Regions from separate parts of the Homo sapiens genome. Here region 1 is linked to region 2. A link means that fine-mapping ties the variant in region 2 to the expression of a gene that starts in the linked region. Tissue or cell type: thyroid. Region 2 holds a variant in brackets; the other region holds the start of a gene. All regions are shown on one strand. Distances are between the middles of the regions.

Region 1 (8,092 bases), 140 kb before region 2:
GAACAAGCTGATGCTAAAATTCATGTGCAATTGAAAAGGATCCTTAAGAACTAAACCCATCTTGAAAAAAAACAAAGTTGGAGTACTCTTACTTCCTTATTTTGATGCTTGCTACAAAGCTATAGCACTGGCATAAGGATAGGCACATGGACCATGGAAATAGAAGTGACAGTCCAGAAATAAACCTATAAATTTATGGCAATTAATTTTCAACAAGAGTGTCAAGACCATTCGATGAGGGATGAATAGTCTCTTCAACAAATAGTGCTGGAACAACTGGACATCTATCTGCAAAATAATTAAGCTGGAGTCCCAACCTCACACAATTATTTAAGAATAAACTCAAAACGGATCAATAACCTAAATATAAAAACTAAGACCATAACATAGGGTAAGTCTTTAAGATTAGATTTTAAAACATAGGGGTAAACTTTATGACACTGGATTTGGCAACGTATTTTTAAATGAAACCAAAAGCATGATCTACAACAATTTTTAAATTATATAAATTGGGCTTTAAAATTAAAAACTGTAACATTATTAAGAAAGCGAAAAGTCTACAGAATGGGAGAAAATATTTGCACATCACGTATCTAATAAGAGTTTAGTCTCCTGAATATATATTAAAAAACCCGATTTTAAAATGGACAAATGCTTTGGGAGGCTGAGGCAGGAGGATCACTCAAGGCCAGGAATTCAAGACCAGCCTGGGCAACATATGGAGCCCTTATCTCTACACACACACGCGCACGCACACACACACACACACACACACACACACACACACACACAAATCTTTTTTTTTTTTTCTCAATTAGCCAGAGTCATGACGGGTGTGCTGAAGAGAGACCACTGGCCTTGTGGGATTGGCTGTATGCGAGAGTCCACAGGAGAGGCTAAGAATATTGTATACAAAGATTTTTTTATGTTCTTGAGCAAATCCCTAAAAATGTAGCATATAGAAAGTATACAGAACAGATTACAAATGAGACACTGGCTATGGTTAAAGCAGAACCAGATGTTAAAAAATTAGAAGACCAGCCGGGCGCAGTGGCTCACTCCTGTAATCCCAGCACATTGGGAGGCCAAGGCAGGCGGATCACCTGAGGTCAGGAGTTTGAGACCAGCCTGGCCAACATGCCGAAACCCTGTCTCTACTAAAAATACAAAAATTAGCCGGGCATGGTGGTGCATGCCTGTAGTCCTGGCTACTTGGGAGGCTGAGGCAGGAGAATCGCTTGAACCCAGGAGGTGGAGGTTGCAGTGAGCCGAGATCATGCTACTGCACTTCAGCCTGGGCAACAGAGTGAGACTCTGTCTCAAAAATTAATTAATTAATTAATTAAATAAAAATAAAAAATCAGAAGACCAACTTCAAGGTGGTCAAATAGAAGAGGCGATTCTGCAGGCTAAAAATGAACTAAGTCTGGCAAGAAAAATGATGCAGTGGAAACCATGGGAGAGACTCCTGCCAATCAGTGGAAATGGCCAATATAATTATTAAATGACTTTGGTAGGTTGATGGGAAACTGATGTAATTAAATATTCTGTTATATTAAGAGTGTGGGCCAGGTGCAGTGGCTCACACCTGTAATCCCAGCACTTTGGGAGGCAAGGCAGAAGGATCATTTGAGGTCAGGAGTTTGAGACCATCCTGGCCAACATGGTGAAACCCCATCTCTACTAAAAATACAAAAATTAGCCAGGCATGGTGGCACGCACCTGTAATCCCAGCTACTCAGGAGGCTGTGGCGGGAGAATCGCTTGAACCCGGGAGGCAGAGGTTGCAGCGAGCCGAGATCGTGCCATTGCACTCCAGCCTGGGCGACAGAGCAAGACTCCATCTCAAAAAAAAAAAAAAAAAAAAAAGGCAAAGAACCCTTGTGTACTGTTGGTGGGACTGTAAATTGGTACAGCCATATGTAAAACAGTATAGAGGTTCCTCAAAAAATTCAAAATAGAACTAACGTGATCCAGCAGTCCCACTTCTGGATAGATAGCCAAAAGAATTGAAAACAGGGTCTGTCTCTAAGAGATATTTGCACACCCATGTTCATATCAGCATTATTTACAACAGCCAAGAGGTGGAAACAACCAAAATGTCCATTGACAGACGAATGGTTAAACAAAATGTAGTATATACATGCAACAGAGTATTATTCAGCCTTAAAAGAGAAGGAAATCCTGTCACATGCTATAACATGGATGAACCTTGAGAACATTATGTTAAATGACATAAGCCAGTCACAAAAAGACAACTACTACTGTTTGATTCCATTTATATGAGATGCTTAGTGAAAATCATAGAGACAGAAAGTAGAATGGTTACCAAAAGCCGTGGGTAGGGGGAAAGGAGTTGTTTAATGAGTATGAAGTTCCCATTTCGCAAGATGAAAAAGTTCTGGAGATCTATTTTACAACAATGTTAATATATTTAACATTACAGAAGTGTACACTTCAAAATGGTTAAGATGATACATTTTGTGTTATATGTTTTTTACCCACAATTAAAAACGCATTAAAATTTTTTTTTAAATGAGACAGGGTGACACTATGTTTGCCCAGGCTGATCTCAAACTCCTGGCCTCAAGAGATCCTCCCATCTCAGCGTCCTAAAGCGTCTGGATTACTGGTGTGAGCCACTGCATTTGGCCACCCTAAAATATTTTTAAAAGGAAAAACAAACAAAAAAAACTAGCCCATAGTTCTAGACTTTCTCTTTGCCTCACATTAATTTACTCCCACTACTTCAATAAAAATAACAGGGGGAGCTAAGAGCTTGTACAGACTTTTCTCTAAAGAAGATATACAAATGGCCAACAAACACATTAAAACATGCTCAACATCATTAGTCATTAGGGAAATGCAAATCAAAACCACAATGAGTCTCAGCTACTCCAGAGGCTGAGACAGGAGGATGCTGGAGGCCAAGAGTTCCAGACCAACAGGATCTCACTTTGAGCAACAAAGCGAGACCCTGTCCCTACAATAAATTTTTAAAAAATTAAAAAAATAACAAGTGTTGGCCATGATTTTGATAAAGTGCGGTCCTCATACATTGCCGGTGGGAATGTAAAATGGTTCAGCTGCTTTGGAATACAGTTTCAGTTTCTCCCTGAGTTGAGAATAGAACTACTATATGACCCAGCAATTTCACTCTTAGGTATATACCTAAAATAATTTAAAACAAGTACTCAAACATAGAAGAACTATTTACAGTAGTTAAAAGGCAGAAACAACCCAAATGTCTATTTATGGAGGAATGGATAAACAAACTGCAGTCTATATCTACACTAGAATATTGAGCCATAAAAGCAGTGAAGTACTGATACATGCTACGACTCAAAAGATTAGAAGACAGATACAAAAGGTCAATATTGTATGATTCCATTTTTATGAAGTAGGTACATCCACTGAGACAGAACACAGATTGGTGGTTGCCAGGCCTGGTCGAAATGGGGAAGGGGCAGCAACTGCTTTAACAGGGTACAGGGTTTTCTTTTAGGATGATGAAAATGTTTTGGAACTGTATCGATAGAGATGGTGGTTGTACAGCATTGTGAATGTACTAAATGCCACTGAATTGTTCACTTTAAAATGACTAGTTATGTCAATTTCACCTCAACAAAAAAATGACACACAGTACTCAGATTTTAAAAAGCATCATTTCACCAAGATTCCATGAATTAATGTGAGATGATCAAAGAGGATTCAGTAGAATCGTTCAACTTCGAATGTAAAACAGTCCTAAACTCAAACCTTTGTGACACTAAAGTGGGGAGATGGTATGTGATAGTTTTAGATAGTAAAAATTATTCTTGTTTACTTGGTCTCGAACTCGAACTTTTTTGAGGCGGAGTCTCTCTCTGTCGCCTGGGCTGCAGTGCAGTGGTGCGATCTGGACTCATTGCAACCTCCGCCTCTTGGGCTCAAGCGATTGTCGTGCCTCAGCCTCCCTAGTAACTGGGACTACAGTCGCCCCCCACCACGCCTGGCTATTTTACCTATTTTTGGCTATTTTACCTATTTTTATTAGAGACGGAGTTTCGCCATGTTGGCCAGGCTGGTCTCGAACTCCTGACCTAAGATGATCCGCCCGCCTCGGCCTCCCAAAGTGCTGGGATTACAGGCGTGAGCCACCGCGCCCGGCCTTGCCCTCCTATTTTGGTACCGTCAGATGCAAAGTGCCTGGGACAGAAGTGGGGCTCCGCTGGCGCCCAGCTCCAAAACCCAGGCAGCGTGGAAAAGACTAGACAGGGAAGGGGTTAGCCCTCAGAATTACACGCGGGTTTGCCTTACCAGACTACCACCACTGGCACAACCTCAGACCCACACCCAACCGACTTTACCTCCCAGGCCCTGATTAATCTCGCCCGGAAGTACCGCCCACCCATGCTCACTTCCGCTATCCCGTACTTCTGCTCATCTCGCGAGAACTGAAAGCGCCTATGTGACCTGCGCTAAGCGGAAGTTGGCCCTCTTTTCCGTGGCGCCTCGGAGGCGTTCAGCTGCTTCAAGATGAAGGTAGGTGATGGTGGCGAGTGTTAGACTGGGTTTGGGGAACGTGAATCGAGTCCCAGAACGCGGCATTGCCTCAGTTCCAGCACTCCAGGATCCTGGCTTTAGGTGGAGAAGGGTCTCAAGTAGGAGAAGGCTCGCCTTTCTGGGGCATGGAGCTTTTTGGCCGAACGGATGGCAGGCGATTGCGGCTGGAGCCGCGGCGGGCCGGGAGCGCCATGGTGGCGTCCCCGCGCCCAGCCGGGACGGATGCGGCGTGTTGCCCAGTTTGCGGCAGGCCTGTGGTGCGGCTCTTGACCCCGGCTTTCTTGCTTCGGGAGGGTGAACGGCTGCGGAGTGCCCTCGCCCCCAGAGTCATTCCGCGGGGCTTGAGGGGAAAACGTCCTGCTGAGTGCGGCGCTTCTTGACTGCTACTCTGCTTTCACGTGCTTTTAGTGAGTACAGTCGGCATCTTATATTTCCTGCTTGTGTGGAGGCAACATGAAAGGCTTTTTGCAGTGGAATTAACTTTGTAGATGGCTCTACAATTACCTGTATAGATAGTTTCGTAAACTATTTCCCCCCTTTTAATCCTTAGCTGAACATCTCCTTCCCAGCCACTGGCTGCCAGAAACTCATTGAAGTGGACGATGAACGCAAACTTCGTACTTTCTATGAGAAGCGTATGGCCACAGAAGTTGCTGCTGACGCTCTGGGTGAAGAATGGAAGGTAAAAGTTGACAAATTGTTGCAGGTATTTAAGTCAGAGACGGTAAACGCCATTGGTAACTGGTATTTGGAATGGGGTTCAGACTCCGGGTTCTGGCTTCTGACCTTTGGTAAGTTGCTTCCGAATGCCACTTTATAAAGTTAGAGGTATTACCTTGGAGGGGGGGACGTAGAGTAAGCCATAAAATATACGTAAAGTTTACATCAACATAATTCTTGCCCTGCATCATGCATTTGGCAATATGTCACATAGCTGTCCTCATAATCCCCAAAGTGCCAAAAAGGGTTGTATCTGATTTGTTTGTTGCTGTTTGATATTTTATCTTCTTAGTGCTGTTATCTCTAATAAAACATCGGTTAGAAATGCGACTTGAAAGACATTTGATAATTGAACTTGACAAGTTGGGAATATAGACAAAACTCACTGAACAGAGAAAACGTGCTTAAGTTCAAATTGGTTTTCATAATTATACTTTCTCATATAGGTGTGTTCACAGAGGTCACAATCCTGTACTGTATAATTTTGGAATAGAAATAGTAAATGTGTCATTCATTGTATGCTCTTGCAGGGTTATGTGGTCCGAATCAGTGGTGGGAACGACAAACAAGGTTTCCCCATGAAGCAGGGTGTCTTGACCCATGGCCGTGTCCGCCTGCTACTGAGTAAGGGGCATTCCTGTTACAGACCAAGGAGAACTGGAGAAAGAAAGAGAAAATCAGTTCGTGGTTGCATTGTGGATGCAAATCTGAGCGTTCTCAACTTGGTTATTGTAAAAAAAGGTGAGGGTTACTTGTGTTCAATTTTCGTTGAAATTGATTTAAAGCCAGTTGTCCAAATGCTTATTCATTTGCAGTATCCAGACTTACAGACCAATGGATTTGTTTCTCTACCATCAATTCAACATTAAACATTCTGATTTAGGATTCTTAAGGAAGTTGTTGAATTAAAATCTCTTCAACTGTTTCTTCTAAGGAGAGAAGGATATTCCTGGACTGACTGATACTACAGTGCCTCGCCGCCTGGGCCCCAAAAGAGCTAGCAGAATCCGCAAACTTTTCAATCTCTCTAAAGAAGATGATGTCCGCCAGTATGTTGTAAGAAAGCCCTTAAATAAAGAAGGTAGGAGGGATTATGCAATTAGGGCTTGCTTAATTTTGGTAATTTGTCTATCATTTTGTGTGCATATCAGAAGATAAATATGTGCCTTTGGAAGGCCTTAGCACTATTCACTTGGAGTTTTTACAGAAAATATTTGGGGGTGGCCAGCATACCCAGTTGGTGTTAATCCTTGCTTATTATATCCAGTGCCTTGTAGAGTGCAGTAATTTCGTTGAAAATCTGCTTGTGAATCTTTGATGTATACATTATCCAAAAATAACCTGACTTTAAGGTCATTGCTATCTGGTTTAGGAGTCACATGTTTGAGAATTCTGGGACTATTAGCACCACACACTTTGTAATTTTATATCAGATGTTCTAAATTATTAATATTTTTTAAGAGATGAGGTCACACTGTTGCCCAGGCTGGTCTTGAACCCTTGAGCTCAAGTGATGCTCCCACTTTGGCTTCCCAAAGTGCTGGGATTATGGGCGTGAGCCACCACACCCAGCCCAAAATTATTTTTTGGCTTACAAAAGAAGTTGCTTTAAACTTCTGTTTCATCTGTAGGATATGGATAACAATAGTTAAGAGTTGTGAGAATTAGAAGTTAGAGACCTTACTCAGAATACTAGGGAGCAGGTGTTAGGGATTTTGGAGCTTTACCTTTTAAGAACTTTTGTCCATATAGTAGACAACATACTCACCAGTGAGGACCTCAAATAGCAATATTTCTGTGGTGAAATTTGGGGATATTTATGTTAAATAAACAGCATGTCAGTCAAGGTTGGGTTTTCCTGACAAAATTTGAAAGAATTTCTCTGGATTTTGGTTTTCAGGACTGGTGTGACTTAACATACATGGCATAGATAGTATACGTCTGTTAAGTCAGTAATTACACTTACTTGAGCACAGGTACTGTTCAAGGTGCTGAGAATACAGTATAGACAAATTCCTACCCTTATGAAGCTGATGTTGCAAAAAAAAAAAAAAAAGCAATTGACAAATAGGTGGCAGTTGCCCATAATCATAGCCCTGGAAATAATCCGTATAATACAAGCGTGGTCTGGTTGATGGGTATTTTTAGATGGTTCTTATGTCTATAGTAGGAGGCTTAACATTTTAGCAGAATCTGAACATCTGAGCATTTAGCCTAAGGCAGTTAACTCCTACAAAGTGTCCATGAAACAAATACATCTGAAAAGGCCTATGCTCCAATGCAGATCTGTAATCCATGAGCAGTTTTGGAGTACAGATCAGATTAATGAAGATACTTTAACAACATGCCACCTAATCTGATGTTAATAGTTAACGTTACCCCTGAATTGGCAGGAATTGTCAAAGGAAATAGAGATGCAAGCTTACATCAAATTTAAAAGTATGGCAGGATGATTATGTAGATAATGTGTTAAGTGGTTTTCACAGACAAATTAACTATGCACAGTTATATATTAACATAATGCCACTGTATTTTAGTAAAACTGGAAGGTAGTAAAAGTTAGCCTGGTTATTTTTCAGGACTTGGTTTCCCTTATATTTTTATAATATTTAACCAATCTTCTAGATTTCTGTGGAGGGGCAAAAAGCATTTTAGAATAGTTCTGATTTGATTTTAAAGGCCTCATTATAGGTTTTCATAGATGCTGTTAAGCTTACGTTTATTTCTGATGTTTTTAAAGTAGATGTGGATTCTAACAAAACAAATATTGAAATGATTGAGTCCTTTGAATTTTTAGGTAAGAAACCTAGGACCAAAGCACCCAAGA
Region 2 (8,107 bases):
CCAGCCTGGAAAGAGTTGGGGAAAAAATGGAATCTTAGAGGGTAGAGATACTGAGAATGAGCAATTCTTTCTGACAAATTTTGCTATAAATGAGAAGGAAAGGTGTGTGTGAGAAATGAGCTGTTTTTGTTTTTTTCCTTTTGCCATCCCTATTGAAGTTAGAGAATTAAGAGTTATAGCATGTTCATATGCTAAGAAAAATGATTCGCCAGGAAAAATAATACAGGGGATGTGCAGGTCTAGATAAAATAAAAATAAAACAAACAAACAAAAACAAAAATATCGAAGATAACCCAGAAGCAAAATCCTTAAATACACAAGAAGTCACAACATAGATGAACATAGATGAGTTGGCTTAAAAAAAAAAAAGTGGTCTGCAAGTAGGAATCATTTTCGCTGCAGAGAATAAAAACACTATGTGCAATACTTAAATCAATAAATAAACAAACAAACATGCCCAGTGCAGTGGCTCACACCTGCAATCCCAACACTTTGGGAAGCCAAGGTGGGAGGATTGCTTGACATAGCGAGACCTCATCTCTATTATAAAAAATAATAATAATTTTCTAAAAAACAGCTAAGAGTCTAGAAGGAAAGAGATTACATAGTCTTCTTAGCAAACAAAGTAGAAGGACAAGCAGACACAGCAATGGTGTAGGCACAATAGATATGTGTGGTCATAAATTTAAAGTGAGACGAGCTAGCGTATTTGTTTTCTCCAGCCACACTCCACTGCTCAGGTTCAAGGAATTACAGAGTTGACAAAGAACTGAGTGTAATCGGGGTTGAAGTTTTGCCTTGATTACAATGAAGGAAGAGAAGAACAAGAGTTTTATCACTCAACACCACAGAATGGTACATACAGAACACTAATACTTACTGAAATTTTTATTAAATGAATCAATATAATTGGATAAGTTAAGAAGAGAATATATGAGGAGAATGATGGACAGTGAAAAAATGGCGTAGCTACTGGCCTGGAGGTCTTGATGGAATCCAAGAAATGTCCAGTGAGAGAACTGAAAAAATAAAAAAAAAATTGGATTCCAAGAAATATCAAAATAGGGTACTGGAGTATGTGAGTTAGTAGAAAAGGAAGTGGAGGTCAGAGTTAGATGCTTACAATTTTTTTTTTTTTTTTTGAGACGGAGTCTCGCTCTGTCGTCCAGGCTGGAGTGCAATGGCATGATCTCTGCTCACCGCAACCTCCACCTCCTGGGTTCAAGCGATTCTCCCGCCTCAGCCTTCTGAGTAGCTGGGATTACAAGCACATGCCACCACGCCTGGCTAGTTTTTTGTATTTTTAGTAGAGACGGGGTTTCACCACGTTGGCCAGGCTAATCTCGAACCCCTGACTTCGTGATCCACCCGCCTCGGCCTTCCAAAGTGCTGGGATTACAGGAGTGAGCCACCGCGCCCGGCCCAATGCTTACAATTTTTTAAGTTACAGATCATGGTGATAAAGTCTAGGGTAATGGTTCTCCGTCCTGACTATACATTGGAGCCACCTGGAACACATTTTTTTTTTTTTGAGACTGAGTCTTACTCTGTCGCCCAGGCAGGAGTGCAGTAGCGCCATCTTGGCTCACTGCAAGCTCCGCCTCCCGGGTTCACACCATTCTCCTGCCTCAGCCTCCCGAGTAGCTGGGACTACAGGTGCCTCCCACCATGCCCAGCTAATTTTTGTGTTTTTAGTAGAGGCGGGGTTTCACCTTGTTAGCCAGGATGGTCTCGATCTCCTGACCTCGTGATCTGCCCGCCTCGGCCTCCCAAAGTGCTGGGATTACAGGCGTGAGCCACCGCACCTGGCCCTGGAACACTTTTTTAAAAAAATCAGACCAATAAAATATGAATTTCTGAAGGTGGCCCACTACTATCAATATTTTTTAAGCTGCCCATTTAGAATATACAGCCAGAATTGAGAACTACTAGTCTAGGGTGTGATTATGCATGCAGACAGCTAAGGTAGGTTAGAAAAGAAACCTGCGATCTGCAAACTGAAGAACTTCTAATAAAGTTTTTTTCTATTATTCTTGATATGAATAAAAACATGAGCTGTGCTCAAAGTATTTCACATCTAGTAATTCATTTCATATTCATAACAACCCAGTAAGGGAGGTCTAGCATTATCCCTTTGTGAGGAAAATTAGACACAGATGGGGAGAACGAAACTGTACTGAATTAAGAGTCCCAGGTTATACATAAAGTTAAAGGTGTATATTATAAACCCTAAGGCAACTACTTTTTTTTTTTTTTTTGAGGTGGGGTCTCGCTCTGTCACCCAGGCTGGAGTGCAGTGGCACGATCTCCGCTCACTGCAACCTCCACCTCCCGGGTTCAAGCGATTCTCCTGCCTCAGCCTCCCAAGTAGCTGAGACTACAGTCACGTGCAACCACGCCCGGCTAATTTTTTGTATTTTTAGGACAGATGGGGTTTCACTGTGTTAGCCAGGATGGTCTCGATCTCTTGACCTCATGCTCCTCCCGCCTCAGCCTCCCAAAGTGCTGGGATTACAGGTGTGAGCCACCACGCCCGGCCAAGGCAACTACTTTTAAAAATCAAGACATATAGCTAATCAGCCAATGTGAAGATAAATGGAATACTAAAATATACTCAAGTAATCCAAAAAGGAACAAACAAGAGATAGGACAAATTAAAAACAAGCAGGCCAGGCGAGAAGGCTCACGCCTGTAATCCCAGCACTTTGGGAGGCCAAGGTGGGTGGATGACCTGAGGTCAGTAGTTCAAGACCAGCCTGGCTAACATGGCAAAATCCCATCTCTACTCAAAATACAAAATTTAGCCAGGTGTGATGGTGTGCACCTGTAATCCCAGCTACTCAGGAGGCTGAGGCAGGAGAATCGCTTAAACCCGGGAGGCGGAGGCGGCAGTGAGCCGAGATTGCGCCACTGCACTTCAGCCTGGGCGGCAGAGTAAGACTCCATCTCAAAAAAAGAAGAAAAAAGACCAGCCTGGACAACACAGTAAGACCCTGACTATACAAAAAAATTTTTAAAAATTACCCAGATGTGGTGGTGCAAACCCACAGTCCCAGCTACTCAGGAGGCTAAGGCAGGAAGATAATTGAGCCTGGAAGGTCGAGGCTGCAGTGAGCGACGACTGTGCCACTGTACTCCAGTCTGGGTGACAGAGCTAGACTTCGTCTCAAAAACAAACAAAAAAATCTGTATGTAAATATTCATAGCAGCACTACTCAGAATAGCCAAAAGGTAGAAGCAATGTAAATGCCTATCAAGTCATGATAAACAAAATGTGGTGTTTCTATAGAACGTAGTATTATTCAGCCATAAAAAGGAATGAAGTACTACTGGACCTAGAAAGCATTATGCTAAGTCGAAGAAGCTGGACACAAAAGGTCACACATTGCCTAAGTCCACTTGTAGGAATATCCACAATAGGCAAATCCACAGAGAGAGAAAACAGATTACTGGGCAGCAGGGACTAGGAGACTGGGAATGGGGAGAGACTGCTTAACGGGTACAGCGTTTCCTTTTAGGATGATGAAAACGTTTGGGAACATTTAGTTTGTGGTAATACTTGCATGACATTGTGAATGTGCCGAACACCACTGAATTACATATTTTAAGTGGTTAAAATGGCAAATTTCATGTTATGTTAATTTTGTCAGAATTTTTTAAAAAAGGAATGAAGGAGTGATACATACTACAACATAGGTGAACCTGAAAAACACTATCCTAAATGAAAGAAGCCAGTTACAAAAGATCACATATTGTATGACTTCATTTCTATGAAATGTCCAAAATAGGTAAATCTATAAAGTCAGAAAATAAATTAGTGGTTATCTAGGGCTAGGGGTCCAGGAGAGAGGGATTGGAGAGTGACTGCTAATGTATACAATGGTTCTTTCTGGGGTGATTAAAATCCTTTAAAATTAGATTATGCTAATGATTGCAAAACTGTAAATCTACTGGAAAACATCAAGATACCCCCCTTTAAATTGGTGAATTTTATGGTGTGTAAATTATATCTCAATAAAGCTAACTTTAAAAAGGAAAAACTTAGGCCAGGCATGGTGGCTTACACCTGTAATCCCAGCACTTTGGGAAGCTGAGGCAGGTGGATCATGAGGTCAGGAGATCGAG[A/T]CTAGCCTAGCCAACATGGTGAAACCCCATCTCTACTAAAAATACAAAAAATGGCCGGGCATGGTGGCATGCGCCTATAGTCCCAGCTACTCAGAAGGCTGAGGCAGGACAATCACTTCAACCCAGGAGGCAGAGGTTGCAGTGAGCCGAGATCTCGCCATTGCACTCCAGCCTGGTTAACAAATGGAGACTCCGTCTCAAAAACAAAAAAAAAAAAAGAAAGAAATAGCAATGAGATACCAATCCACACCTATTAGAATAGCTACAATCAAAAAAACTGACAATACCAAATACGAATGAAAATGCGAACAGGAACTCTAACATTCACTGCTGATGGAAATACAAAATAAAACAGCCCTTTTGGAAGGCAGTTTGGCAGTTTCTTACAAAGCTAAATACAGGCCTACCATATGATCCAGCAATCACATTGCTGAGGTATTTGATTATCCAAATTGATTTAAAAACTTATAGTTACACAAAACCTGCACACAATGATTATAAGCAGCTTTATTCGTAATCACCAAAACCTGGAACCAAGGATGTCCTTTGACAGGTGAATGGATAAACAAACTGGAATATATCCATACAATGGATTATTTAGCAATAAAAATAAATGAGCTAGCAAACCACAAAATGATGTAAAGGACCCTTAAATGTATATTGCTAAGTGAAAGAAGCTAGTCCAGAAAGGCTACATACTATATGATTTCAATTATAAGACATCCCAGAAAAGGCAAAACTATAGAAATAGTACAAAACAGTAGTTGCCAAGGGCTTGGGGAAAGGCAGAAAGGGCTTAAGAGCTGAAATAGAATAATCTCATGGAGGTGAAACTATTTCTCACAATAATTTAACGGTGGATACATGTTGCCCAGGCTGGTCTCAAACTCCTGGGCTCAAGCAATCCGCCCATCTCAGATTCCCAAAGCAGTGGGATTACAAGCATGAGCCACCACACCCAACCTATGTCATACTTTTAAACATCATTTGAGTGCACTCCTTCTACTTACTTTTTTTTTTTAAGATGAGGTCTTACTGTGTTGCCCAGGCTGGTCCCAATCTCCTGAGCTCAAGCGATCGTCCCACCTCAGCCTCCCAATGTGCTTAGATTACAGGCGAGAGTCACCGTTCTACTTATGTTTTTTAAAAGCTACCTAAAAACAGCCTCAGGCAGTTTCCTTCAGGAGGTAGTCCAGACAGATCCACGTGAGTATTGCCCCTGAAGACCTTCCAGTAGGACAAGACGTGAAGGTAGAAGACACTGATATTGATAATCCTGACCTTGTGTGGGCCCTAGACTAATGTGTGCGCTTATGTTTTCATTTCCGACAAAAAAGTTTAAAAAGTAAAAAAAAAAAGAAAAACGAAAAAAAAAGGCCAGATGCAGTGGCACGCAACTCAGGAGGCTGAGGCCAGAGAATCACTTGAGCCCAGGAGTTGGAGGCCAGCCTAAGCAACATAGCGAGACTCTATCTCTAAAAAAAAAATTCATTTTTTAAATAGAAAAAAGCTTACAGAATAAGGATTTAAAGAATAATATTTCTGTACACCTGTAAAATGCGTTTGTATTTAAGTGTTGTTACGAGAGTCAAAAAACAACAAACATTTTAAAGCTTCTAAAGTCAAAAGGTTACAATAAGCTAATTTACTATTGATCAAAGAAAAAAATTTGATGAATTTAGTGTAGCCTAACTGTACATTGTTCATAAAGTGTACAGTAGGGCACAGTAATATCCTAGGCCTTCACATTCATTCACCACCCCTCATTCAGTGACTCGCCCAGAGCAACTTCCACTCCTGCAAGGTCCTCTCGTGGTAAGTGCCCTATTATAGGTGTACCACGTTTATCTTTCATATCTGTCCTGTTCTGTGTTCCGTTCTGTTCTGCGTTCCATTCTGTTCTGTGTTCTGTTGTGTTCTGTCACTCTGTCGCCTAGGCTGGAGTGCAGTGGCGTGATCTCGGCTCACTGCAACCTCTGCCTCCTGGGTTCAATTCTCCTACTTCAGCCTCCCAAATAGCTTGGATTACAGGCGTCCACCACCATACCAGGCTAATTTTTGAGTTTTTAGTAGAGACACAGTTTCACCATGTTGGCCAGGCAGGCCTCAAATTCCTGACCTCAAGTGATCTGCCTGCCTCAGCCTCCCAAAGTGCTGGGATTACAGGTGTGAGCAACCATGCCTGGCCTTTTTTTTTTTTGTTTTTTGAGATGAAATCTCACTCTGTTGCCCAAGCTGGAGTGAAGTGGCATGATCTCGGCTCACTGCAACCTCCGTGTCCCAGGTTCAAGTGATTCTCCTGCCTCAGCCTCGCAAGTAGCTGGGACTACAGGCACACACCACTATGCCAGGCTAATTTTTGTATTTTTAGTAGAGATGGGGTTTCACTATGTTGACCAGGCTGGTCTCGAACTCCTGACCTCGTGATCCACCCACTTCAGCCTCCCAGAGTGCTGGGATTACAAGTGTGAGCCACTGTGCCTGGTTCCCGGCCCTTTTATACCGTATTTTTATTGTATCTTTTCTATGTTTAGATACACAAATATTCACCATTATGCTATAGCTGCCTAGAGTATCAGTACAGTAATATGCTGTACAGGTTTGTAGCCTAGAAGCAATAGGCTATAGGCTATAGCCTACAAGAGTAGCATGCTACACCATCTAGGATCATGTAAGTACACTATATGATGCTTGCACAATAAAGAAATTGCCCAATGATGCATTCCTCAGAATGTATCCCCCTAGTTAAATTACTTATGACTGTGTACATCTAACAAGAGAGTATCAAAGTGCATGCAGCAAAAACTGACATACCTGAAAGGAGAAATAAACAGCTCCACAATCACAGGGAGTTCAACACTCCTCACTGATGCAATAATTCACAGAACAAGTAAACAGAAAATTATTAAAAATATGTAAGATCTGAAGAACATTATCAACCAACTTGACATAATTGTTATTTATAGAACACTGCACCCAACAACAGCAAGATAAACCATCTTTTCAAGCACACATAGAACATTCACCAAGATAAACCATATGCTGGACCGTAAAACAAGCATGGAAATATTTTAAAGAATATAAATTGGCTGGGCACGGTGGCTCACGCCTGTAATCACAGTACTTTGGGAGGCCAAGGCAGGCGTACACCTCAGGTCAAGAGTTCAAGACTAGCCTGGCCAACACGATGAAACCCCATCTCTACTAAAAACACAAAAATTAGCCGGGCATGGTGGTGTGCGCTTGTAATCCCAGCTACTCGGGAGGCTGAGACAGGAGAACTGCTTGAATCTGGGAGGTGGAGGTTGCAGTGAGTAACTTTTGTATTTTTAGTAGAGATGGGGAGTGCCACTGCACTCCAGCCTGGGTGACACAGCGAGACTCCATCTTAAAAAAAAAAAAGAATATAAATTATGCAGCATGTTCTCTGACTACAATGGAATTAAACTTGAGATCATTAACATAAAGATACTATATAAAATTCTCCAGTATTTAGAAATTAAATAATAGTCTCCTAAATAACCCCTGATCAAAAAAGAAACTGCAAAAGAAATTAAACAATATTTTGAACTGAATGAAAAGAAGAAATCAATTTATGAGATGTGGCTAAAACAGTATTTAGAAGGAAATTCATAGCTTTAAGCACCTGTATTAGAAAATAAGAGAGTTCTAAAATTAAAGACATAAATGTCCACCTCAAGACGCTCGGGGAAAAAAAGCAGACTAAATCAAGGGGAAGTAGAGGGAAAAAACATAAAATGCAGAAATCAATAAAATTTAAAATAAACAAGAAACAATAAATATCAGTATCTGTAGATTAAGAAAAAAGCAAGAGGCTGGAATTACCAATATGAGCAATGATAGAAGGCATATCGTTACAGGTCCTCTAGACATTAAAAAAAGAACAAAGGAATATTATAGGCTAGGCAAGGTGGCTCCTGCCTGCAATCCCAGCACTTTGGGAGGCCGAGGTGGGTGGATC

What was found. PIP is the estimated chance that this variant, and not a neighbour inherited with it, causes the effect.
Region 1: it holds the start of RPS6, and the variant in region 2 is fine-mapped to the expression of RPS6 in thyroid (GTEx, PIP 0.97).

What each region holds. Positions count from the first base shown.
Region 1 is chr9:19,376,622-19,384,713 of GRCh38, reverse strand. RPS6 (ribosomal protein S6) reads left to right here and starts at 4,478. Exons shown (of 6, transcript NM_001010.3): 1 at 4,478-4,524; 2 at 5,096-5,227; 3 at 5,796-6,006; 4 at 6,200-6,346; 5 at 8,063-8,092. The coding sequence starts at 4,519. It also overlaps the pseudogene NDUFA5P3. RefSeq lists an enhancer at 3,964-5,163.
Region 2 is chr9:19,238,891-19,246,997 of GRCh38, reverse strand. All of the region lies in intron 1 of DENND4C (DENN domain containing 4C), which reads right to left. Among named protein-coding and RNA genes, the nearest start is that of DENND4C, 12 kb to the right of the region's middle. The variant A/T (reference allele first, on the strand shown) is at 4,126.